3 separate regions of the Homo sapiens genome follow, and regions 2 and 3 are each linked to region 1. The links come from fine-mapping of genetic effects on gene expression. A gene starts in region 1. Each other region holds a variant in brackets. All regions are shown on one strand. Distances are from middle to middle. Region 1 holds the start of ADIRF-AS1 (ADIRF antisense RNA 1). Region 2 overlaps MMRN2 (multimerin 2). Region 3 overlaps AGAP11 (ArfGAP with GTPase domain, ankyrin repeat and PH domain 11).

What was found. PIP is the estimated chance that this variant, and not a neighbour inherited with it, causes the effect.
Region 2: its variant is fine-mapped to the expression of ADIRF-AS1 in whole blood (TOPMed, PIP 0.94).
Region 3: its variant is fine-mapped to the expression of ADIRF-AS1 in skeletal muscle (GTEx, PIP 0.99).

Annotation. Positions count from the first base shown.
Region 1 is chr10:86,966,605-86,974,779 of GRCh38, forward strand. It overlaps ADIRF-AS1 (ADIRF antisense RNA 1), which reads right to left and starts at 4,636. Exons shown (of 2, transcript NR_170185.1): 1 at 2,438-4,636. It overlaps ADIRF (adipogenesis regulatory factor), which reads left to right and starts at 1,878. Exons shown (of 3, transcript NM_006829.3): 1 at 1,878-2,001; 2 at 3,596-3,658; 3 at 3,872-4,311. The coding sequence starts at 1,941. The coding sequence ends at 3,978. It overlaps LOC124902474, which reads left to right and starts at 4,801. Exons shown (of 3, transcript XM_047426123.1): 1 at 4,801-4,960; 2 at 6,509-6,653; 3 at 7,565-8,175. The coding sequence starts at 4,801. The coding sequence ends at 7,676. AGAP11 (ArfGAP with GTPase domain, ankyrin repeat and PH domain 11) reads left to right here and starts at 3,732. Exons shown (of 11, transcript NR_171046.1): 1 at 3,732-4,311. RefSeq lists enhancers at 1-564, 405-584, 565-1,317, 2,824-3,577, 3,578-4,329 and 1 more and silencers at 2,688-2,982, 4,564-5,113.
Region 2 is chr10:86,934,277-86,942,451 of GRCh38, forward strand. It overlaps MMRN2 (multimerin 2), which reads right to left. Exons shown (of 7, transcript NM_024756.3): 6 at 8,041-8,175; 7 at 1,264-2,849. The coding sequence ends at 2,467. Among named protein-coding and RNA genes, the nearest start is that of MMRN2, 19 kb to the right of the region's middle. RefSeq lists enhancers at 5,176-5,470, 5,614-5,663, 6,093-6,593. The variant GTCT/G (reference allele first, on the strand shown) is at 3,664.
Region 3 is chr10:87,005,001-87,013,175 of GRCh38, forward strand. It overlaps AGAP11 (ArfGAP with GTPase domain, ankyrin repeat and PH domain 11), which reads left to right. Exons shown (of 11, transcript NR_171046.1): 10 at 2,655-2,706; 11 at 3,355-5,226. Among named protein-coding and RNA genes, the nearest start is that of FAM25A, 11 kb to the right of the region's middle. RefSeq lists a silencer at 7,298-7,498. The variant A/G (reference allele first, on the strand shown) is at 3,666.

The DNA.
Region 1 (8,175 bases):
GGGGAGACGCTGTGATGTGATGGGGATGTTGAGGCTCAGAGAAGTGAGGGGCTTGCTCTAAGAATATCTGAACCCAAGAGGTTTGACTGTAGTGCCTGCCGCTAGGGCCACGTGGAGCTCTCTCTACCACCATCTGCTGGGGGCTGGCTGTCTCTTCCCACAGAGGCTGCTCCCTTCCTGTCCAGCTCACAGCTCATTGCCCATGGGGCCTGGAGCCCAGTGGCACCACCAGCCTGTGATAAACTGGAACACTCGAAGGCCTGCCTGGCTATTGGGCACTACCGGTGGGATTTCAGGAGGGCTGGCAGGGCTGTGGCCAGCCAGGCAGGGCATGGCTGAGATGGGCTCCCCAGAGTCCCCAAGGCATCCATATGGCCGCTCCCAGGGCAAGGCCTCGCTCTGGGAGAGGAGGGGCGGGGGGCTGGGAGGACTGTTGCTGCCGCTTTGTTTTGCCTGAGACCTGCTCCCTCCCCCTTCCTCCACCTAATCTCATCACCTGCCTCTTCCCTTTGCCCAGGGTTGACCTCATCTCCATTAATCCATACCGTGTGTGTGTGTGTGTGTGTGTGTGTGTGTGTGTGTGTGTGTGTGTGTGTACAGGTGCACTTCCAAACAACTCCCTCTAGGGGCTGACCCCGCAGCACTAGAAGCAGGGTATGTGCCAGCAGACCAAGCCTGTGTGGCAGGGGCTTCCCAGCGCTCCAGAATAGGGGAGACACCAGCAGAGGTGCAAGAAACAGCCCCGGACAGGAAGCGGTAGAGAGACCCAGAAAGGCAGGGTGGGTGTGCACTGGCCTCCAGGTCCTGAAGGCCTACTCTGGAGTGGGAGTATACCCAGCTGGGTGGGGCCTGACCTACACCCCTTGTGTGCCAGGGGAATGTATCTTGCAAGCTGTTTTGCTGCACCCAAGGATGATCTTCTCCACTCAGGCCCAGGTCCCTAAGTCCCCTCCTAACAGCCACAAGTCATACTCTCTAGCGCCTTGCCTGCCCCATCTCAGGAAAGGTGACCTGAGAGGCCCAAGCTTATTCCTGCCCTCCCTGAGCCATGCTTCCTGCCCAACTTCCTAAGGCTTCGGTGACAGACGGCAATCTCCTTGCCTGGGCTGCACAGGCACACTGCCCTCTCCCCCTTGGGGTTGCATGGTCTGCAAGTGCACACACCTGTATCTCGCCCTCTCAGGGGAAAGATTTACCAGGCCCTCTCCGGCTGCATCCACTGGGTCTCTGGCTACAGGCAGAGAGCCAGTCAGCAGTGCCCCTGCAGCTGTTTGGGGCTGGGGGCTCCGATGATGCCAGAGCCCTAGGGTTTACAGGCACCTAGGCAGATTCGAGGATCCAAGTCCCTGCCACATGCGTTTGGGTGAGACCGACCTCACTGCCTCAGTTTCCTCCTATACACTGATGCTATCAACAAAAATACCCACTTCAGGAGGTGGTTGTAAAGATTATACAAGAGACTGCAGAGCGTTAGGCAGCACCTGGCACAAGACAAATGCTCAGTAAAAGACCACTGCTGTCATTAAGGTCAACACCAGCCCTGAGCTCCTGCCCTGGAGCTGACCCAGCGCTCACGCCCAGGATCAGAAAGGGAGGGCTGGGGCTGATGAGCTGGGAGGTGGTGTGCGCCCTTCTCCTGCCTCCAGCTCCTCTCTGGACCCCTGTCCTGGCACCTCTTCGGTCCCTGGTTCGGTCTGCCCCTTTCCCACCGCGGCCCGTCTTAGGCCAGGATGTGCTCCCTGCCCTGCGGACTCTGGAGCAGGGCCCGGCCACTCCCCGGAGCCTGTATGACGGGAACCGCCCCGCGCCCTCTCCCCTACGCGGGGCAGGCCAGCCCTGGGGCGCCTTAAAAACCGGAGCTGGCGCTTGGCATCGCCACTCTGGGCAGGATCCAACGTCGCTCCAGCTGCTCTTGACGACTCCACAGATACCCCGAAGCCATGGCAAGCAAGGGCTTGCAGGACCTGAAGCAACAGGTGGAGGGGACCGCCCAGGAAGCCGGTGAGGATAGCGCGCGACCTAGGGCTCAGGCAGGGGCACCTGCGTGGATGCGCAGGCAGAAGCAGCGGGTCGGCGCGGTCCGCAAGTTCCTGGACCGGCAGCTTGGCTCGGAAGGCTCGGTCCTCCACTGAGACGCAGGGGGCAGGCAGAACGCCCACCCCGGCGAGCAGACAGATGGTGCCCGCAGGGAGGCAGCGGAACAGAGGCTCCGGAGGAGCCGGAGCTGCGCTGCGGGCACTGCGGGAGCCCCTCCAAGGAGGCCATGCTGGCGCTGGGCGGCCCGCCCAGGCCCTCAGGAGAGGGTGAAGGTCCAGGACAGGGATCGGGCGCGGCCCGCCACCACTTAAACCCGCGCGCGCCACCAGAGGCTGCCCCAGACCTCAAAGGGCTTTGTTTCCATCCCACCCCCATCGCCGAAAAGTAATCGTCGCCTTACCTTTAAGTCCCCACCTGGCAAAGAAGGTCCTTAGTTCCTCCACCTCCAGCTCTCTCCTCCGTATTCTGGAGGTGACCCAGCTGCGGTGGGGGCGTGGGAGATGTCAGGAGACCACTGGGTTGGTTCTTCCTGCACCTAGCCCAGGCTTCGTTAGGACTCCAGCTCCCTGTCAGTCCTGCCCATATCCCAGTCAGGAGACAATATCCAAACCAACCCCTTACTTCACCAGTGCTCCAGGGGAGGCCCACAGTTCTTCCCTTGAGACTGAAATGCTACCAAGGAAGCCTCCGTGTCAGGTCCCTTCCTTCTGGGCTTCACTTTTCCATCTGAGAGCTGGGTGCAAAGGATGGGCTGCTTTCTGATGGGTTAATCGAGACGAGGTTCCCAGGGGCCTCTCAGCACACTTGCCTGACTAACCCTTTCCGGAGGATGGGATCTGGGTAAGGCAGGCCCTTTCCTGTTCAGCAGCAGGGATGAGTTACAGCTCTGTAGGCGGGAGCCACCTGTCAGCCCCCCCGGGGCTGGTGACTCCATTCCCAGCAGGCCGAAACTCTGGTCCAGAGGAGATAGTCCGGCCTTGGAAGTTTTGCCTCCTTCCTTCATTTGTCTCCTAATGTCTTAAGCTGCCTGTCCACAGAGGCACTGGCTTTGCTTGTGTGCCCCTCCGGGCAGGCCACAGGAGGGAGGAGGCAGTAAGGACCTGGCAAAACTGCAAGCCCCAGGGCTAAGTGCATGAAAGGTGGGAATTCAGGCATCTGGGCCAGGCTTCTAGGGGAGAAGCTGTAAAAGGGGGCAAGGGTCTTCTGCGCCATCACCAGCATTAGCCAACAGTCCAGATGCTAGCTGCAGCCTGGCCCTGCCCTGCCTTCCTTCCTCTGTCCAACATTTTCTCAGTAGCCCTGGAGATGGAAAGGGAAGCTCCTCCCCCACAGAGAAGGAGCTCAGAGTTAGAAATAAACAAAAACATCCCAGAGGCATGGAAAGGTCTCCTGCCCCTCGGGCTGGGGGGCCCTGGGCCAGGGACTTTATCTCCATGGCATCCATCCCTTGGACCTGTACCACCGAATACTCTGGAGGACACAGAGGCATGGCAATGGTGGGGCACCTGTAGTCGGTGGTGCCTCAACAGGGGCTAAAAGCCACATCTCTCTGTTCCAGTGTCAGCGGCCGGAGCGGCAGCTCAGCAAGTGGTGGACCAGGCCACAGAGGCGGGGCAGAAAGGTCTGGTGGGGCTGGAGGGAGGCGGGCAACCCCAGCACACCTCCCACTCCCCGCCCCATCCCGGCTGGGGCCCAGGCACATCCTCTCCTCTGCAGAGCCCTCTGTCCACAATGCCCCAAGCAGGTCCCCCGGGAGACCCAGGCCAGGCTAAGCCTACAGGCACTGTGGTTCCCGGGCCCTGCCTGACCTGCCCTCTCTCCCGCCCTTCCCCAGCCATGGACCAGCTGGCCAAGACCACCCAGGAAACCATCGACAAGACTGCTAACCAGGCCTCTGACACCTTCTCTGGGATTGGGAAAAAATTCGGCCTCCTGAAATGACAGCAGGGAGACTTGGGTCGGCCTCCTGAAATGACAGCAGGGAGACTTGGGTGACCCCCCTTCCAGGCGCCATCTAGCACAGCCTGGCCCTGATCTCCGGGCAGCCACCACCTCCTCGGTCTGCCCCCTCATTAAAATTCACGTTCCCACCCTGTGTCCACTTCATGATTCCTCGCAAGCTGGGCCCAGTCCTCTCATCCCAAGAGCAGAGCCACCGTAGCCGGAGTCCTAGCCTCCCAAATTCGGAAATCCAATCCAACGGTCTCAGGAATGTTTTCCATCCCGCCACGCGCCTCCCGAAGCTCCCAGACCGGAGGCTCAGCCCCCATCTCGGTTAGTGCCCCTCTCCCGCCCGACTTTAGAGCCAGCCCCTGCCCCTTATTCCCTGCCCCAGGATCCCGGCCCCTCCTGGGAGCTGGGCTGGACTCGGTCCTCAGATCCTCGGAAGGCTCAGCTCTGGGCGGGGCAAGGGACCTTGCAAGTCGGGGGGGCCTCGGGAACTTCTCTCCGCCAGCTGCGACTGGAGGCTGGGAACAGGGGAGACGACCCAGGGCCACGGCCCCTCAGGACTTCAGGCGGCCGGAGGTTGTGGGGACGAAGCGGAGTCGGGAGCCGGGCTTCCGGCCCTCACTACCCCGTCTCGGCCCGCGGGTTGCCTGCGTGCCCGCCCCACCCAGCGGTGAGTCATGGGGCAGGGCCCGCGGGAAGCTTTGTTGAGTGGGGCGCTGCCGCCCGGCGGGGTCCCGCCCCGCCACTCCCCGGGGAGGGGCTTCGGGGCACGGGGCCGTGCACGTGAGAACGAAGCACGGTTGTGGGGGGGGCATGCACGTGCGCGCTCGCGTGCGGGAGACCCCTCCCTTCCACACCACTTCCTTTCGGGACAAACCGGTAACCTCCGGCCCTGGAAGGTTTTGTCTAGTGGGTTCCGGATGGACTGGTGTTCCCAGCACCCCCCCGGCACGTGTCCACGCGTGTGGCCCCGGTACGGTGTATGCCTTGCCAGTAGGTGACTCAACGTGGCACTGGTTGAGCGCCGGATGAGGCCTGGCCCTGGCGCGGGGCGTGGGCTGCTGCGGCCCTTTCCTCCCCGCGCCCCTCACGCCCCAGCGGGCCCCTAGCGGTTCCCGTCCACCCGCTCCATGTCTTTACCCCGGTACTACCTCCACCTGCAGTCGCCTCCTCCTGCGCGCCAGTGGCCTCTGCGTTTCTGTTGAAAGGTACCGACTACGCGGTGCTTCCCAGTTCTGAGGCGATTTAGTCAGCGGACTCAAGGCGCGCTCCCTGCCTTCCCCGGCCTCCCAGCAGGGGACGAAGTCCCCAACCTGGCTGCCAGTCCAGATGCTGCAGTACAGGTCTGCCTAGGAGGCCGTTCCCTTCTCCAGTCTGAGATCTCCCTCGCGGGGCACGTGTCTACCACCCTTAACCCAGGGCTGCCCTGGTTCCACTATCGGTTACATGTTGCTGACTGTCCCCAAAAGGTTTCTTTGTAGAATGTGGGAAAGTCCTTGAAGAGACACCCGGAGCAGTGTCAGGGGCGCTTCCAGGAGCCCCTGCCTCCAGGAGCAGGTCCTAGGGTCTGGAGAGCCGGCCTCAGGGCCACTCCAGGAGGCTGGTGGGGCTGGACTGGCAGAGCCCAGCATCCTTCTGGTGTGCATCATTCCCCTATGACTCAGGGATGAATCCCAAGGGACTTTTCACTTGTTCTCCTTGTGAGTGATCGCCTTAAGTGCGACCCAGGTGCGGCCAAGGAGAGAGATCAGGCCTGAGGCCAGGAGTCTTCTAGAAAAGGCTTTTCTTGTCTTGAAGGCGGGGCATGGTGGCTCAGCCTGTAATCCCAGCACTTTGGGAGGCTGAGGCGGGAGAATGACTTGAGACCGGGAGGTCGAGGACCGCTGCACTCAGTCTGGGCAACAGAGTGAGACCCTGTCTCAGAAAAAAAAAAAAAAGCCGCCCTTCATCTTCCTCTGGACACCTTGTGGCTGGAAAGGAACCCTAGAACCAGCCACTTGGAACCACAGGAGGAACAAGTCTGAGGAACAAGTCTAAGGAAAAGCCCACCTGCTGATGAGGGCAGAGCCTCCCAGACCTCCAGCCTGTTCCCACAACACCCCCTCCCTTCCATCTCAGCCACCTTGACCTTCCCATCATGCTCCTGCTGCCTCGGTATCTTCACACCTGCGGCATTTTCTGCCTGGCATACTCTCCATAAATCACCCTTGCCTATTGCTCTTCCAAACGTCAGGTCTCAGCGGCCTTGGGTGTGCCGACACACACACACACACACACACACACACACAATATGCATCAGGCCCCTGGTGACACATTCTCACACCCCCTGTACCTCCTTTTTAGAGTCACAATGAGCCTTCATGTGTGCTTCTCCATAGTGGTGGTTCATGGGGCTGTAACCAGTCCCTTTTTAGTGCATGCTCTGTGTCTTCTGCGGTGCTCAGGCAGCACTGGCTAAATGATTGCATGGAGGACCATCCTTTTGTTCTCCTGATGGATGACAGTGAGTTCTCATTTTCAGGTTTACCATGGAACCATCTCTGCAATGCAGCCCCTTCCACATTGCCCCAGCCCCATGGAGCTGGTGCTCCGGTGGCGCTGTGCAATTGCCTGTTCCTGTGTGCCTCTGCTCCCCCGACACTAGGAGCCCTGGAGGGCAGGGCCAGGTGGGACTTGCCTTTTGAACCATGTCTGGGACACAGAGGGCACAGAGCCAGTGTCTCTGTAATAGGTCCCTTGCCTGATGGCAGGGCAAGTCCATACACCCGAAACACCGGGTTGCAGCAGAAGAAAGAGGTTTAGTCGCAGGGCTGCCAGACAAGATGGGAGAAAACCTCAAATCTCTCTCCGAGAAGTTTGGGGTTAGGGTTCTTAAGAGTTTTAGAGCAGGCCAAAGTGTGGAGATTGTTGATTTGTTGAAGAGTGCGGAGTGAAGTCATGGGGCCAGGGAGATGAAAAAACTGTATTCTCATGCTGATTATGTTCTTCTGGGCTGTTCAAACTGGTTGGGGTCACTTGTTTCACTGGAATTTGGAATCTGAAAAACATTTTAGGCTGGATGCGGTGGCTCATTCCTGTTTTCCCAGTACTCTGAAGGCCAAGGTGGGCGGATCATCTGACGTTAGGAGTTCGAGACCAGCCTGGCCACATAGTGAAACCCTGTCTCTACTAAAAATACAAAAATTAGTCGGGTTTGGTGGCGTGCGCCTGTAATCCCAGTTACTTGGGAGGCTGAGGCAGGAGAATTGCTTGAACCTGGGAGGTGGAGGTTGCTGAGCCAAGATGGTGCCGCTGCACTCCAGCCTGGGCGACAGAGTGAGACTCTGTCTCGGAAAAAAAAAAACTGAAAAAACAAACGAAAAAAACGTTTTAAGGAATTCCTAAACAAAAGCCTATGATTCTAACATCAGAAAGCCGAACTGTGGGAACAGTGGGGATGCAGATGGTCAGTATACAGTGCCACGGGAAGTTCTATAGAAGGAATTTAGTTAAAGCACAGCCTCATTAATGCTTAATTATAACTGTTAATTTTTAATTATAACTGTTAATGCTTAATTATAACTATATTTCTGTGTAGAATGCTTGTTAACCCTGTGAGGACAGCTTCACCAGAGGAGCCCTTGGGAGCTTATACTGCCCAGGCCTGTCTCCACCAGGTTCATGGAGCAAGTACAGCCCAGACTGGCTGAGGAGGAAGGATTGTGGCCACACTACACCTATTGGGTGTCAGTCAGTCCTCCAGAGATCAATTCTTCCATTAGCAATGCCACACATAATTCCTAATTCTCCAAATTCCAGTTCCCCATCTAGCCAAACACACAGTCACTAACATTACATTGTGGTTCCACTTACAAATGACTGCATTTTCAGGTGGAGGTGTTCCCTTAAACCATTTTCTCTGGATGGCGTTCCTTCCTCCCTCTTCTTCTTCATCCCCATTTTCAGTCCGTAGGATGAGCTTCTTTGTATGTAATCTCCCAAACGTCTACCGCTGGAGTTCTCAGCTTTGACCCCCATCAGACTACACATGAGGCAGGGTGCAGATTCTTCCACTTTCACCTCCTCTCCCCTTCTCTCCCTCCGCCGCCTTTTTAAAAAATGTTACTTGTCCCATTTCTACATTGTGAAAACACGTAGAGTTGCATTCCATTCCTCAGCCCTGAACCACACCTTTGTTTTTGTCTTGGA
Region 2 (8,175 bases), 32 kb before region 1:
CCTGACCAGTCACTGCATGATTGAGCAGAAAGAAGACACAGCACAGTCTGCAGCAGCAAGGCTCACCTGCTACTGGGCTTCTAATCTTTGTTCTGGCGTGGCCGTCTGCTTCATGCCTTGGGGCAGAATTGGTCTTGGTAACTGAGAGCTGCACCGGGGGTGGGTGATACTTAAACCTGTGGTTAAGATAATAAAATGCCAGAGGCCAGGCGTGGTGGCCCACACCTGTAATCCCAGCACTTTGGGAGGCTGAGGTGGGAGGATCATTTGAGGTCAGGAATTCAAGACCAGCCTGGCCAACATGGTGAAACCCTGTCTCTACTAAAAATACAAAAATTAGGCGGGCATAGTGGTGGGTGCCTCTAATCCCAGTTACTCGAGAGGCTGAGGCAGGAGAATTGCTTGAGCCTGGGAGGCAGAGGTTGCAGTGAGCTGAGATTGCGCCACTGCACTCCAGCGTGGGTGACAGAGCAAGACTCCGTCTCAAAAAAGAATGCCAGAATACCTAATTAGAGCTGTAAGATCAACCACCTCACACTAAAGACAAAGTTCAAGAGAGGTTGTGATTTACCCCAGGTCAAACATGAGCAGTGTGGCCTGGCATACTGTTCCTTTTAACACCGATGTTTTAGCACATTGAGTGCACAAAACTTAGTGCTAAATAAATTCTGAGGAACAAGTGAAGTAATAACTCCTAGCAAACAATGAGAAGTGCTGATAACCTTGTTAACGCCAACAAGCAACTCACTACGAAGTCCAGTCTGATTTTTTTTTTTTTTTTTTTTTGAGACAGAGTCTCGCTCTGTCTCCCAGGCTGGGGTGCAGTGTCACCATCTCAGCTCACTGCAACCTCCGCCTCCCGGGTTCAACCGATTCTCCTGCCTCAGCAATCTGATTTTCTTATAGAGAAGACTATATTCAACAAATTTTGAGTACTTAATACCAAAAAAAACCTTGTTTCTGATAGCTAGATGACTGTTTTCTCAGGCCAGTTTGCTATAGGATCTGAACTTTTTTGAAAACCATATGCTGGTATATTACAGGAATAATTGCAGCTATGAGCTGTACTGTCTAGTCCAGTATTAGTATCTTTGCCTAGTGTGGAAACTTCCAAGTGTTTTATATAGAATAAACGGAAATCATTCTACATAACAGGGCCTGGAATAATCAGTCACATTTACCCACATAGTTTCACGTTGTCCCATGTTTTTTTTACCTACTCTACCAATTATTTTTGCCCTCCAGAAGTAAATGAGGCAGAGATTTGAAGGGCATCACTTTATTCCAAAGTTGATCATTAGTGAGGGGGATTTTTACAGTCTTCTTTCCCTCCTCCCTCAGCTGCCTCCTGGTTAGAGATGCTAACAAGAATTACGATGGTCCTAAGATACTGGAGGAAGTAAAAAAGTTGAAGGCCCTACATATTTTAGTTCACGTTTGGCATTTCTTGGTCTTTACCCTATGTAAGGCAAGGAGAAAAAGACATGAAATTTAAATTACAGATAAACACAAGTGTATTAGTCCATTTTCACACTGCTATCAAGAATTGCCCAAGACTGGATAATTTATAAAGGAAAGAGGTTTAATTGACTCACTGTTCCACATGGCTGGGGAGGCCTCAGGAAACTTACAATCATGGCAGACAGTGAAGAGGAACCAAGGCATCTTCACAAGGTGGCAGGAAGGAGAATGAACACAGGAGGAACTATCAAACTTATAAAATCATCAGATCTCGTGAGAACTATCACAAGAACAGCATGGGGGAACCGCCCCCAAGATCCAATTACCTCCACCTGATCTCTCCCTTGATGTGGGGATTATAGGGATTACAATTCAAGATGATATTTTAGGTGGGGGCACAGCTAAACCATATCCTACAAGGAATGACTGAAACTAAAGATACTAATTTCCTTTCCCTTGGTTGGCCAGGCTGTCGTCTTCATTACTGACTAATAGAGACCAAGCAGGTTGGTTTAATCCCATTGCCCTCTAGTGCTTTCCAATGTTGGCCAAAATGTTGCCTCCATTTTAAACATTCCTCCTGGGGAAGAATGTCTTTCTATCATACGATAAGGGAGAAGAGAAGAGGAAGCAAGAGAAAAGTTTAAAGTGTTGTACAGAAGTTTCCAACCACAGGAGGAGCAAAACACCAAAGAAGTTGTAGAATACAGGGTGTGGTGAAGAGTTGGAGCCCAGGCCGTGCTGTCTGAGAAGGCATGCCAAGCCAAGGTTCAGGCTTCCTAGGACCATGTCCTGCCCGGAGAAGCATTCCAGTCCTTCTCATCATGGAGAAATGGCCAAGCCCCATGTGGTTACAGGGAAGCCACGTACACCACACCATCTTTGCAGAAGGTTTCCAGGGAAGAGACAGACCAACTGAATGACCTCCAGCCCATCCTTGGCCAGAGCCCCAGGCCGAGGAGAGCTGGGCGAGTCCATGATGTCTGATCAGATTGGGGCTGGGGTTCAGGTCTTAAACATCAGGAAGCCCCCAAATGCAGTGCCCGACAGGCTTCTCTTTGTTATTGATCCCTGGGTTAACTCAAACCATACTCGCTCACCCTTCTGCAGCTCAGCCATGGCAAAGACCGTTGCTGTGCTTCCACTCCCCTGCCCAGTGGTACAGACTGGAGTCCGATGGTGACCTCCAAACACCAGCTGCCCGGTGCCTGGCCCTGGGCCAAATTCAACGCTCACTGCAAACAGGTAGACACCACGCTCAGGGGCTCGGAAGTAGCCATGTTCAGGGAAGTAGCTGCTGCCAATGTTGATGTATGTGGTGTTGAACTTCACTGTCTGCAGGGCAGCCGTCCCTTCTGAAAAGCTGGCATAGAAGGCCACAGGGGATCCTGAAACATAACAGGACAGTGCTTAGTGATTCATCCCTTACACCATTGGGTGGGAAATTAAACCCTGAGACCTACCGTCCTCACCTTATTAGCAATGGAAATAGGTCACTATTTCTAGATAACCTAGATATTCCCAACAGCAGTGTTATTGCAGGAGAAAAGCTAGATGGCCAATTCTGTTTTTCACTAATAGAGAGGAAGGAAAATGCAAGTCTGTTGTCTGAGCTGGTGTACATTTTAACAAAATACTTTCATTTTTTTTTTAGACAGGGACTCACTCTGTCTCCCAGGCTGGAGTGCAGCAGTGGTCATGACTCACTGCAGCCCTTTTTTTTTTTTAACGTAGAGATGGAGTCTTACTATGTTGCCCAGGCTGATCTGGAGCTCCTGGGCTCAAGTGATCCTCCAGCCTCAGCTTCCCAAAATGTTGGGCTTGCAGGTGAGCCACCATGCCCAGCCACAAAGCACTTTCTCGTTTGATCCCTTTTCCTTCCAACTTCCTTGAGAGACAGTATCCCTGATTGACAAAACAGGTTGAATCCTTCACCGGCTGCCCAAGGCTACATGGTTTGTAAATGGCAGGCTGGGACAGGAACACGGGTCTCTGACTCCCAGACGACCACCACTTGCTAGGAATCTTGAGATACTCAGGGGAGAGGGAGAAAATATCCATCCTCAAGGTAATAATAATGCTAACACTGGGAAGGTATCTGCAGAGCCATGAAGGCTGGATCCTCCTGGATGTTGAAGACAGAACCTTGGAGAAAGAAGGAAAGAGCAGGTGGAGCCAGGGAAGAGAAGCCCCTTCAAGCTG[GTCT/G]TCTTTTTTTTAGTTGATAAAGGGTCTCTTGTTGCCCAGACTGGAGTGCATTGGCGATCATGGCTCACTGCAGCCTCAACTTCCTGGGCTCAAGCAATCCTCCCACCTCAGCCACCTGAGTAGCTGGGTCTACAGGCATACGCCATCATGCCTGGCTAATTTTTTATTTTTTGTAGAGACAGAGTCTTGCTCTGTTGCCCAGGCTGGTCTCAAACTCCTGAGCTCAAGCGGTCCTCCCACCTCAACCCCGCAAAGTGCTGGGATTACAGGTGTGAGCCACTGTTACTGGCCAAGCTGGTCATCTTACATATGGGTAAATTGAGGCCCAGAAAGAAAAAGCTTATTGCTCCAGACCACACAACTAGTAAATTACCAAGCCTCCTGGGAACAGACCTTGAATCTCTAGACTTCTGGTTCTCTGCAGGGACCACTTTGGCCAGCCTTAGGACAGGAACACTGACAGAACACTGGTGCCAGGCCCATGCACGGGCACAGAAGCAGAGGAAGCTGCCATGTGTGGAGGGTGTACAAACAGCCAGGAAGAAGCCAGTCCTGCTGCCTGGACAGCATGGTTGGGCAGCTGGGGACAGGGTCATGAGATGGCACAGGAAAGGTAAGTCCTACTTGGGTCCTGGCTGTGACACTGGCCTTGGCACCAACGAGGTCATGTCCACCATGGGGTTCCTCAACTTGCTCCCTCTGTAGGGGTTTAAAACAAGGTCCCCATTTCTTAGGTGATAAAACCAAAGCCTTCAGAGGAGCAGTTTGCTGAGCAATTACTGACTTGGGTCCCGGAACTCAAGCCTCAGCTCTTTGACTCCCAATCCAGCAAGCCTTTGTGAATAAAAAAATGTTGCTTTTCTCTAGTTCTGGAAGATTTTCTGAGAATTAGACAGCTGAGAATAGCTTTCTCATTTGTGTTCAGATTGTGTCAAATCAGCCGGGCGCAGTGGCTCACGCCTGTAATCCCAGCACTTTGGGAGGCCAAGGCGGGCGGATCACCTGAAGTCGGGAATTCGAGACCAGCGTGACCAACATGGAGAAATCCCATCTCTACTAAAAATACAAAATTAGCCAGGCGTGGTGGGGCATACCTGTAATCCCAGCTACTTGGGAGGCTGAGGCATGAGAATCGCTTGCACCCGGGAGGCGGAGGTTGCCGTGAGCCGAGATCACGCCGTTGCACTCCAGCCTGGGCAACGAGAGTGAAACTCCGTCAAAAAAAAAAAAAAAAAAAAATGCCGGGCGCAATGGCTCACGCCTGTAATCCCAGCACTTTGGAAGGCCGAGGTGGGCGGATCACGAGGTCAGGAGATAGAGACCAGCCTGGCCAACATGGTGAAATCCCGTCTCTACTAAAACTACAAAAATTAGCTGGGCATGGTGGCAGGCGCCTGTAATCCTAGCTACTCGGGAGGCTGAGGCAGGAGAATCGTTTGAACCCGGAAGGCGGAGGTTGCAGTGAGCCGAGATCGTGCCATTGCACTCCACCCTGAGCGAAAGGGCGAGACTCCGTCTCAAAAAAAAAAAAAAAAAAAAAAAAAAAAAAAAGATTGTGCCCAAGTCAGAGGCCGGCGGCTGCCTCTGCAATTCCCCTAACACCCTGCAGGTGGTTCTCTTGCCTAGCCGAAGGAAGGCCGGCCCGCAGCGCCCTCTACCGGTGCTAGGCCCTCGTTCCGGCCGTTCCGTCCGGGCGCCTGCGCAGGGAGTTCCGCCGCAGAGAGAGACCCCCACCCCAACCCAGCCTTGCGCCTGACAGGCCCTAAGATGCGGGAAGGGCTGTGCAAACTCAGAGTGTGCTTCCCTGCAGGGCACACATTCAAGCCCTACAGCCTTCCTACAAACAAATAAAGGGAAATTTGGGGTGTGTGTGTGTGTGTGTGTGTGTGTGTGTGTTTGTGTGTGTGTGTGTGTGTGTGTGTGTTTGAGACAGAGTCCTACTCTGCCGCCCAGGCTGGAGTGCAATGGAGCTATCTTGGCTCACAGCAACCTCTGCCTCCCAGGTTCAAGCGATTCTCCTGCCTCAGCCTTCCAGGTAGTTGGGATTACAGGTGCCTGCCACCACACCGGGCTAATTTTTTTTTTTTTTTTGACAGTTTCGCTCTTCTTGCCCAGGCTGGAGTGCAGTGGCGCAATCTCGGCTCACTGCAGCCTCTGCCTCCCGGGTTCAAGTGATTCTCCTGTCTCAGCCTCCCGAGTAGCTGGGATTAGGCGCCCGCCACCACACCCGGCTAATTTTGTATTTTTAGTAGAGATGGGGTTTCACCATGTTGGCCAGGCTGGTCTTGAACTCCTGACCTCAAGTGATCCACCCGCCTCGGCCTCCCAAACTGCTGGGATTATAGGCATGAGCCACTGCGCCCGGCCTGGAAATTTGTTTTTAAGAACAACATTTTTTTGAAATAAATATCGTCGTGGTAAACACATTTCCAAACCGTGGGGCAAATTCTGAAAGTCATCAGCATATTGAAGCCTTGCACCACGCACGAGAGGAAACAAGAGAGAAGTGTCAGTGTCGGTGGACACAACCTGAACCCTGAAAATGCTGGGGAAATGGGAAAACGTTGACTGCGTTCCTACATGAGGTAAGCCTCGTGCTAGGTATTTGGTAAACGCAGCAGTCTTCATAACAAAACTTTGACATGGGTAGGGATTCTGCCATTTTACTGAGGAAGAAACAGACAAGTGATGCCAGAGCCTGGGTGCTTCCCACTGCTCCACATTGCCTCTTGGGCCATAGGGAGGGTCAGCTGGGGCAGGGGCTGCCTGGGACGGGACCTTCAACAAGGCCTTGGACTTGCCACACGCCAGGCTGCACATGGCCAAGATGGTGGCCTTGTACTTAGCCCTGTGTCTGGGTGGGGAGAGGCCACAGCTCCAAGGCCAGCCTCTGGCAGAGAGAGTCACTTGAGACACAGAGCCTAGTTGTCCCCCTCCCGGGACCACACTCAGGGAGGGGATGGGAAGCTTGGTTGCACATGCCTTCAGCCTCAAAGCCAGCTCCCAGGCCCAGGGCCCTGCAGGGACCAGCCATGGAGGGCCTTCTGGAGGTGAAGAACCGGCACCCTAAAGACAGCGCTCCTCTGCTGCTCACTAGCTGTGCAAGCAGGAAACTTGTGTTTGCGCCTCAGTTTCAGGTAAGATGGAAGTGCTGATGAGTGTGTCATTGACCTGTTGGGATGGGCCATTGTGGTAAAGCCCAGGAAGGGGACTAGCACAGAGCGATGAGACAGGTTAACTGTATTTGCAGAGGGAATGAGCTCCTTTCAGGGCCCACGGCTTTCCCTGTACAGTCCACTGAGGTGTGTTCCAAGACCTTAGCAGGTGCCTGAAATCTCAGACAGTACCAAACCCTATATATACTATTTATTTTCCTCTATGTACATACCTATGCCAAAGTTTAACTTGTAAATTAGGCACAGTAAGAGATTGACAATAATAATAAAATATAAAGCAATTATAACAGTATACTGTAATAAAAGTTATATGAATGTGGTGTCTCCCTCTCTCAAAATCTTATTGTACTGTACTCACCTATTTTCTGATCGTGGTTGATGCAAGAAACTGAAATCAAGGCTGGGCACATGGCTCACACCTGTAATCCTAACACTTTAGGAGGCTGAGGTGGGCAGATTACTTGATCCCAGGAATTTGAGACCAGCCTGGGCACCATAGCAAGACCCTGTCTCTACAAAAAGTACAAAAATTAGCTAGGCATGGTGACACATGCCTGTAAGTCCTAGCTACTCTGGAGGCTGAAGTGGGAGGATCAGCTGAGCCTGGAGAGGTCTAGGCTGCAGTGAGCCATGATCCCACCACTGTACTCAAGCCTGGACGACAAAGTGAGACCCATCTTAAAAAAAAAAAAAAAAAGAAAAGAAAAAGAAAAAAAAAACAAAAAAAAAACTAAAATCATGGAAAATGAAACAGAACTAAGTGGGGCTGCAAGTGGCCACAGTCCCTATCCACATTCTTCCTAGATACAGTGGCTTAAACGCACATGGGAATGAAGGGGGTGAGGTGAAGAGATGAGATGGGGGGACTTGAAGGCTGCCCTGGCAGGGCAGGAGGCGATGCCCTCTCTGTAGCAGGAGCAGTAGGCGGCACTATTGTGCCTGTGGCCTCCAGGCTATGCCGCTCACGGGCTCTGGCACTAGCAGGTGGTTCTTGTGACTTCTGTCTCCCCATAAGCCAGGTAGCTTGAGAGACCCACACCCCTGAGAAGCAGGTGGGCCAAGGGGAAGGTGGACCTAGTAGGGGTGACGGATGGCCATCCTGTTCTCTTTCTTCCTGGCCCTCTTGGAGGCAGAAGAGCTGCCGGCAGCCGGCCCTGGCCTCCTAGGCTCGTCCAGTCTCCCCAGCCCAGGAACTCACCTGCCTCCCAGAGCGCCGCGCCCAAGGCACCTGGCACAGGCCCTGTGACCCGTATGTCCACCAAAGGCTCCGCTTCCTTCTTGTCCCTCTTCCGGGGAGCTTCCAGGTCTTTCTGCTGCTTCTTCCCTTTCCTGC
Region 3 (8,175 bases), 38 kb after region 1:
CAGCACTTTGGGAGGCTGAGGCGGGTGGATCACAAGGTCAGGAGATCGAGACCATCCTGGCTAACACGGCGAAACCCCGTCTCTACTAAAAATACAAAAACTTAGCTGGGCGTGGTGACACGCACCTGTAGTCCCACCTATTCTGGAGGCTGAGTTAGGAGAACCACTTGAACTTGGGAGGCGGAGGTTGCAGAGAGCTGAGATCGTGCCATTGCACTGCAGCCTGGGTGACAGAGCAAGACTCTGTCTAAACAAACAAACAAAAAAAGCAATAAGCTGGTGGGGCGCAGTGGTTCACACCTGTAATCCCAGCATTTTGGGAGGCTGAGGTGGGTGGATCACTTGAGGTCAGGAGTTTGAGACCAGCCCGACCAACATGGTAAAACCAGCCTCTACTGAAAGTACAAAAAATGGCTGGGCATGGTGGTGCACGCCTGTAGTCCCAGTTACTTGGGAGGCTGAGGCAGGAGAATCGCTTGAGCCTGGGAGGTGGAGGTTGCAGTGAGCCGAGATCTCGCCATTGCACCGCAGCCTGGGTGACAGAGAGAGACTGTGTCTCAAAAAAAGAAAAAAAGAAGCAATAAGATGACCTAACCTCATGCAAATATGTAGTTGGTAGAAGGTGTATTTTTAAAGTTTTCAGACAGTTGTGGGTATTTGTTAACACTAAATCAAAACTTCACAAGTGGTGGTTTCTTAAATTAGTTACGGTGGCATTTTACATATTAATAAATTTATTCCATCAGTACTCATTGATCTTTCTTGCACAGTAAATGGATCTTTTGCTCCATACTTGCATTTATAATATCATGCATTAGTTACTTGGAATATATTGGTTTATGTTTTATTGTGTCAAAAATCACTTTTAGTTTAACCACCAATCTTAGTTTAACACGCCTTTAAGTATTGAAAAGCTGCCAAGCCTACAGTAGAAGGAAGAAGTTTTTCAAAGTCCACAGGAAAGCTTAAATTTTATCATTGGGAACAAATACGTATTTCCCTTGAAGTGACAACCTCTCACTTCATTTATTTTTGAGAATGATAGTTGAACTGGTTTTTTAGACCAAGTTTCACTCTGTCACTTGGCTGGAGTGCATTGGCATGATCTCAGCTCAAGCAATCCTCTCACCTCAGGCTCCTGTGTAGCTGGGACCACCGGTGTGTGGCACCACACCAGGCTAATTTTCTTATATGTTTGATAGAGACAGGGTTTCGTTATGTTGCCTAGGCTGGTCTCGAACTCCTGAAGGAGCTCAAGCCATCTGCCTGCTTTGGCCTCTCAAAGTGCTGGGATTTTACAGGCATGAGCCACTGCACTGGCCCAGTTGTACTTTTAAATAAAAATGATGTTCTGTGAAAAAAGTGATTTTTCAGTTCACAGTTAAATCATGGATTCTTTAAAAACAAAAAAAAAAGCGCTTCTCGTTAACTTTCCACTTATTCAGAATATTAGAGACATGTCAAGATTTAACAACATTAATTTTTACTGCTTCATCAAAGACATTCTTAAGAAATTCAGGCTATGTTTTTTACCTGTAGGGGACAGTGAAGAATAGAAAGACTACTAATGTAATTGGTACCACTGCCTTGATTTATGCTGAGAAACCAGCCATTGTACCCACTTTTGCTTTTATACAATCATGGCAAGTGTCAATAAAAAAGCAGGCAATGACTTTGTATTACTTTCACAAATTTTTAAAATTTTTCATCAGCTTTCTCAGGTTTAATTAGTATGATTCAGAACAGTGTTGGCCAGGCACAGTGGCTCAGGCCTGTAATCCCAGCACTTTGGGAGGCCGAGGCAAGCGGATCACCTGAGGTTAGGAGTTCAAGACCAGCCTGGCCAACATGGTGAAACCACATCTCTACTAAAAATACAAAAATTAGCCAGGAGTGGTGGCAGGTGCCTGTAATCCCTGCTACTTGGGAGGCTGGGGTAGGAGAATCACTTGAACCTGGGAGGTGAAGGTTGCTGTGAGCCAAGATCACACCATTGCACTCCAGTCTGGGCAACAAGAATAAAACTTGTTTTTTTTTTTTAAAAAAAAGAACAGTTATGAGCTCTTAGGCCTTCTGGAAGGGGTCTTCAGGATCCTGAGAGGTCCACAGAGCACATTTGGAGAACCACTGGTTTATACACAGACACAATGCATTAGTTTTACAAAGTTTAAAGTTCATCAAAGACTGGCCTCTTAAAAAGGCAGATGAGTTTGTCATTCAAACAACAGAAAATACATAAATACATCATGAGAGTATACTACAGAGAACTAAAGAGAAAGGAAGCTAGGAAATCTGAATCACATTTACATTTATTAAAGTTTACTACTACTGCTTTGTAGAACATTCTTGTGTTTCAATGTGTGGTTAGAAGAGTGAAAATATATTTGGCTTATTGCCATGGCCTGTTAGGGAGAGTCAATACTCATGGGCATTTCTGACTGGTTATCATATAAAAGACTTCACGGTACAGGCCATGATGTGCTGAGAAAGAAGAAGTCAGGAAACCCTCTGCAAGTCAGGATCCAGGAGAAGAATTCGTAAAAACTGCTTTGGTAAAGTAAACACCAAAGCACACAGGAGGCAGTATTTTACTAAACAAATATTATACTAAGATATTAACAGTTTTTGAAGTAATGCGCTTTCTTATTTTTTAGAGATGCAGATAGATCTTTGACCATACTTGATGAACAGTTATACTCATTTGCGGTAAGTGGCACTTTTATTGAGGTTGTATTTTCATCGTACACTTGTATCTGTTTCATGCTGAAGTCAAAGCCATCTTTTTTTAAATCTTCCCCATTTCATGTTGCATTTAGTCATCTTAAGTGTTGTAAAAAGAATGTGCTGGAGTAAGAACTGATCTGCGGCTCTGTTTAGTTAGTGAGCTAGTATGAGTAAATATACTATCCAAACAACAGAAAATGTATCTTTTTTTTTTTTTTTTTTTTGATGGACTCTCTTTCTGTAGCCCAGGCTGGAGTGCAATCGTGCGATCTTGGCTCACTGCAGGCTCTGCCTCCCAGGTCCCTGTTCAAGCAATTCTCCTGCCTCAGCCTCCCGAGTAACTGGAATTACAGGCATGTGCCACCATGCCCAGCTAATTTTTTTTTCTTTTTTCTTTCTTTTTTTTTTTTTTTAGTAAAGACAGGGTTTCACCATGTTGGCCAGGATGGTCTTGAACTCCTGACCTCGTGATCCACCCACCTTGGCCTCCCAAAGTGCTGGGATTACAGGTGTGAGCCACCATGCCTGGCCCAGAAAATGTATCTTTTTAAAAGGTAATTGTGAGCTGTCTATAGGACCCTGCAAGCCACTACCCAATTTTTGAAGCCATTCTTCTTCTGTTCCACACAGTTTTCCACCGTGCACATTACGAAGAAAAGAAATGGAGGTGGGAGTTTAAATAACTATTCCTCCTCCATTCCATTGACTCCCAGCACCAGCCAGGAGGACCTTTATTTCAGTGTTCCTCCCACTGCCAACACACCCACGCCCATTTGCAAGCAGTCCATGGGCTGGTCCAACCTGTTTACATCTGAGAAAGGGAGTGACCCAGACAAAGGGAGGAAAGCCCTGGAGAGTCACGCTGACACCATCGGGAGCGGCAGAGCCATCCCCATTAAACAGGGCATGCTCTTAAAGCGAAGTGGGAAATGGCTGAAGAC[A/G]TGGAAAAAGAAATATGTCACCCTGTGTTCCAATGGCGTGCTCACCTATTATTCAAGCTTAGGTGATTATATGAAGAATATTCATAAAAAAGAGATTGACCTTCGGACATCTACCATCAAAGTCCCAGGAAAGTGGCCATCCCTAGCCACATCGGCCTGCGCACCCATCTCCAGCTCTAAAAGCAATGGCCTATCCAAGGACATGGAAGCTCTGCATATGTCAGCCAATTCAGACATCGGGCTGGGTGACTCCATATGCTTCAGCCCCAGTATCTCCAGCACCACCAGCCCCAAGCTCAACCTGCCCCCCTCCCCTCATGCCAATAAAAAGAAACACCTAAAGAAGAAAAGCACCAACAACTTAAAAGATGATGGCCTGTCCAGCACTGCTGAGGAAGAAGAAGAAAAGTTTATGATTGTGTCCGTCACTGGCCAAACGTGCCACTTTAAAGCCACGACGTATGAGGAGCGGGATGCCTGGGTCCAAGCCATCCAGAGCCAGATCCTGGCCAGCCTGCAGTCATGCGAGAGCAGTAAAAGCAAGTCCCAGCTGACCAGCCAGAGTGAGGCCATGGCCCTGCAGTCGATCCAAAACATGCGTGGGAACTCCCACTGCGTGGACTGTGAGACCCAGAATCCTAAGTGGGCCAGTTTGAACTTGGGAGTCCTCATGTGTATTGAATGTTCAGGAATCCACCGCAGTCTTGGCACCCGCCTTTCCCGTGTGCGATCTCTGGAGCTGGATGACTGGCCAGTTGAGCTCAGGAAGGTTATGTCATCTATTGGCAATGACCTAGCCAACAGCATCTGGGAAGGGAGCAGCCAGGGGCAGACGAAACCCTCAATAGAGTCAACGAGGGAAGAGAAGGAACGGTGGATCCGTTCCAAATATGAGCATAAGCTCTTTCTGGCCCCACTACCCTGCACTGAGCTGTCCCTGGGCCAGCACCTGCTGCGGGCCACCGCTGATGAGGACCTGCGGACAGCCATCCTGCTGCTGGCACATGGCTCCCGTGAGGAGGTGAACGAGACCTGTGGGGAGGGAGACGGCTGCACGGCGCTCCATCTGGCCTGCCGCAAGGGGAATGTGGTCCTGGCGCAGCTCCTGATCTGGTACGGGGTGGACGTCATGGCCCGAGATGCCCACGGGAACACAGCGCTGACCTACGCCCGGCAGGCCTCCAGCCAGGAGTGCATCAACGTGCTTCTGCAGTACGGCTGCCCCGACGAGTGCGTGTAGTATCTGTTTTATTTGACTGCAGTCTCCTTGGTGTAAAAACAAAATGGGAAAAATAAGGATAACTCAGAATTTCAAAAGGAAATCACAAATTCAGCTAATAATAGCATTTTCAGTACTTTTCGTAAACTAAGTAAATACACAAAATGTTGATTTTTCTGACCATAAGACATATTTTATGTCCTTTTGCCGAGGTGGGTGTGTTAGTCTCAGGCCCTCCTGGCCACATTGCCCAAGTCACACAGGCTTCTGTATTATGTATTTAGATAAGATGTGTGAAAATATATTTGAAAAAAAGTTCATAAATATGCATTGATTTTTGTACATATGGCACCTCTTTTTCATTTTTATTTTTATTTTTTTTGGACGATGTTTTGCTCTGTCGCCCCAGCTGGAGTGCAGTGGCATGATATCTGCTCACTGCAAGCTCTGCCTCCCAGATTCACACCATTCTCCTGCCTCAGCCTCTCAGGTAGCTGGGACTACAGGTGCCTGCCACCACACCTGGCTAATTGTTTTGTATTTTTAGTAGAGACGTGGTTTCACCATGTTAGCCAGGATGGTCTCGAACTCCTGACCTCGTGATCCACCTGCCTCAGCCTCCCAAAGTGCTGGGATTACAGGCGTGAGCCACCGTGCCCGGCCCATGGCACCTCTCTTAATTTATAAATTGAACTGGATGTGAACTAATAATGTCAGCTAGTTGAGATAAGAGGGTTACAGATCTGGGCGCAGTGGCTCACACCTGTAATCCTAGCACTTTGGGAGGCCTAGGCGGACTGATCACCAGGTCAGGAGATCGAGACCATCCTGGCTAACATCATGAAACCCCATCTCTACTAAAAAATACAAAAAATTAGCTGGGCATGGCCGGGCGTGGTGGCTCACACCTGTAATCCCAGCACATTGGGAGGCCGAGGCAGGCAGATCACGAGGTCAGGAGATCAAGACCATCCTGGCTAACATGGTGAAACCCCGTCTCTACTAAAAATACAAAAAAAAAAAATTAGCCAGGTGTGGTGGCAGGCACCTATAGTCCCAGCTATTCGGGAGGCTGAGGCAGGAGAATGGCGTGAACCCAGGAGGCGGAGCTTGCAATGAGCTGAGATTGCAGCACTGCACTCCAGCCTGGGCGATCAAGCGAGACTCCATCTCAAAAAAAAAAAAAAAATTAGCTGGGCATGGTGGCAGGCACCTGTAGTCCCAGCTACTTGGGAGGCTGAGGCAGGAGAATGGCATGAACTCAGGAGGCAAAGCTTGCAGTGAGCAGAGATTGTGCCACTGCACTCCAGCCTGGGCAACAGAGCGAGACTCGGTCTCAAAAAAAAAAGAAAAGAAAAGGAGGGTTACAGATCATTGCACATGGAAAATATTTCCAGCAGTAAACACTCCCATTAATGTGATCTACAGCTTTTAAAAAGGAGCATCTCAGAATAAGATGGTGGTACAATTTGCTTATTGAGAAAGGAAAAAAAAAAACACACGAGTATATTACAAGGGGAAAAGAAGGAATGTGATTTCTCATGATTGAAAGCTTGATTTAGATTGCATACAGCTTTTGCTACCCAAGACCAAGCAGCTCTGGCAAGACAGGGTGGTTTTCCAAATGCCAGACCGAGGTGCCTTATGAAGGCAGCTGCCGATGGTTCCAGATGTAGAGAGATAGGTGATGCAGGAGGGAAAGCTGGATTGGAAAAGGGAGAGTTTTGTAGACGGGCTACACTCATTGTGGCTTTGAAAGAGCAGAGCCGGCAGCCTCTAGTCATCATTTGGATATACAGGACTAGAGCATGAATCTGATGTAGAGCTACAGAATGAAGAGCAACAGCAGCTGTTTAAATACCGAGAAAGTGTGTAGAATGAAATTGGACAAGCCAAGCATGGTGGTTTCATGCCTTTAGTCCTAGCTACTTCGGAGGCTGAGGTGGGGGAATTGCTTGAGCTCAGCAGTTTGAGTCCAGCCTGGGCCAGATGGTGAGACCCTGTATCTTAAGAAAAGAAAAAATAAGACCAGGTACAGTATCTCATGCCTGTAATCCCAGCACTTTGGGAGGCCAAGTTGAGAGGACTGCTTGAGTGTAGGAGTTCAAGACCAGACTGGGCAATAAAGCGAGACCCATTTCTACCAAAAAAAAAATCAAGAAATTAGCTGGACATGGTGGCACATGCCTGTGGCCCCAGTTACGTGGCATGGCAGGCTGAGGCAGGAAGATCACTTGAGCCCAGGAGGTGGAGGCTGCAGTGACCCATATTCATGCCACTGCACTCCAGCCTGGGCAACAGAGTGAGACCCTCTCTCAAAAACAGATAAAGTGGACAGAAAATAGGTCGGTAAGGACTAATCATTTAAGGCACAAGTCCCCAGAAGAGTGGCTACTAGAGTGGGAGGAGGAAAAGCAGAAGGAGAAAGAGTTGAAGATAGGCGAGGCTGTGGTCCCAGTGCTGAATTCTGCCAAGCAGTGACTTGATTCATGAACACTCACTGGATGCTGACCCTGTTGCTCTTCTGAGTGCTGGGGTAGAGGGGAGGAGAGGTGGAGCACAGTTCTTGCTTTTATGAGCTTATGTTCTAGGAAGTTCAAGTATTTTTTCAGGTAGTATGAAATAGCAGGAAGAGGAAGCAGGCTAAAGGGACACAGAGTGATTGGGGGCTATTTTAAGTAGAATGATAAGGAAGAGCCTGTCTAGAGAGCTATTTGAACAGTGACCTGACTGAAGGGACAACAGAAAGCAGTGCTGACATTACAGGTAGCAGGATGACTGCCAAGACAGAAACGCATTTCATATGTGTTTGAGGAACAAGCAGCAAGGTGACCAGCATGGGGAGAGTGGAGAATGAGGGAAACCTTGAATGAGAATAAAGCAATTCCATCTTGGAGGCTAATCTGCCATATTCTGATTAATCCCAGTTCCAAGAATTCATCTACGATTTCTATTTTATCTTTTTAAAAAATTATTTTTTATTTTTTATTTTTTGAGACTGAGTCTCACTCTGTCTCCCAGGTTGGACTGCAGTGGCACAATCTCAGCTCACTGCAAACTTCACCTCCTGGGTTCAAGCGATTCTCCTGCCTCAGCTTCCCGAGTAACTGGGATTACAGGCGCCTGCCACCACGCCTGGCTAATTTTTGTATTTTTAGTAGAGACGAGGTTTTACCGTGTTGGCCAGGCTGGTCTGGAACTCCTGACCTCAGGTGATCCGCCCACCTTGGCCTCCCAAAGAGCTGGGATTGCAGGCGTGAGCCACCGTGTCTGGCCATACACATCCCTGCC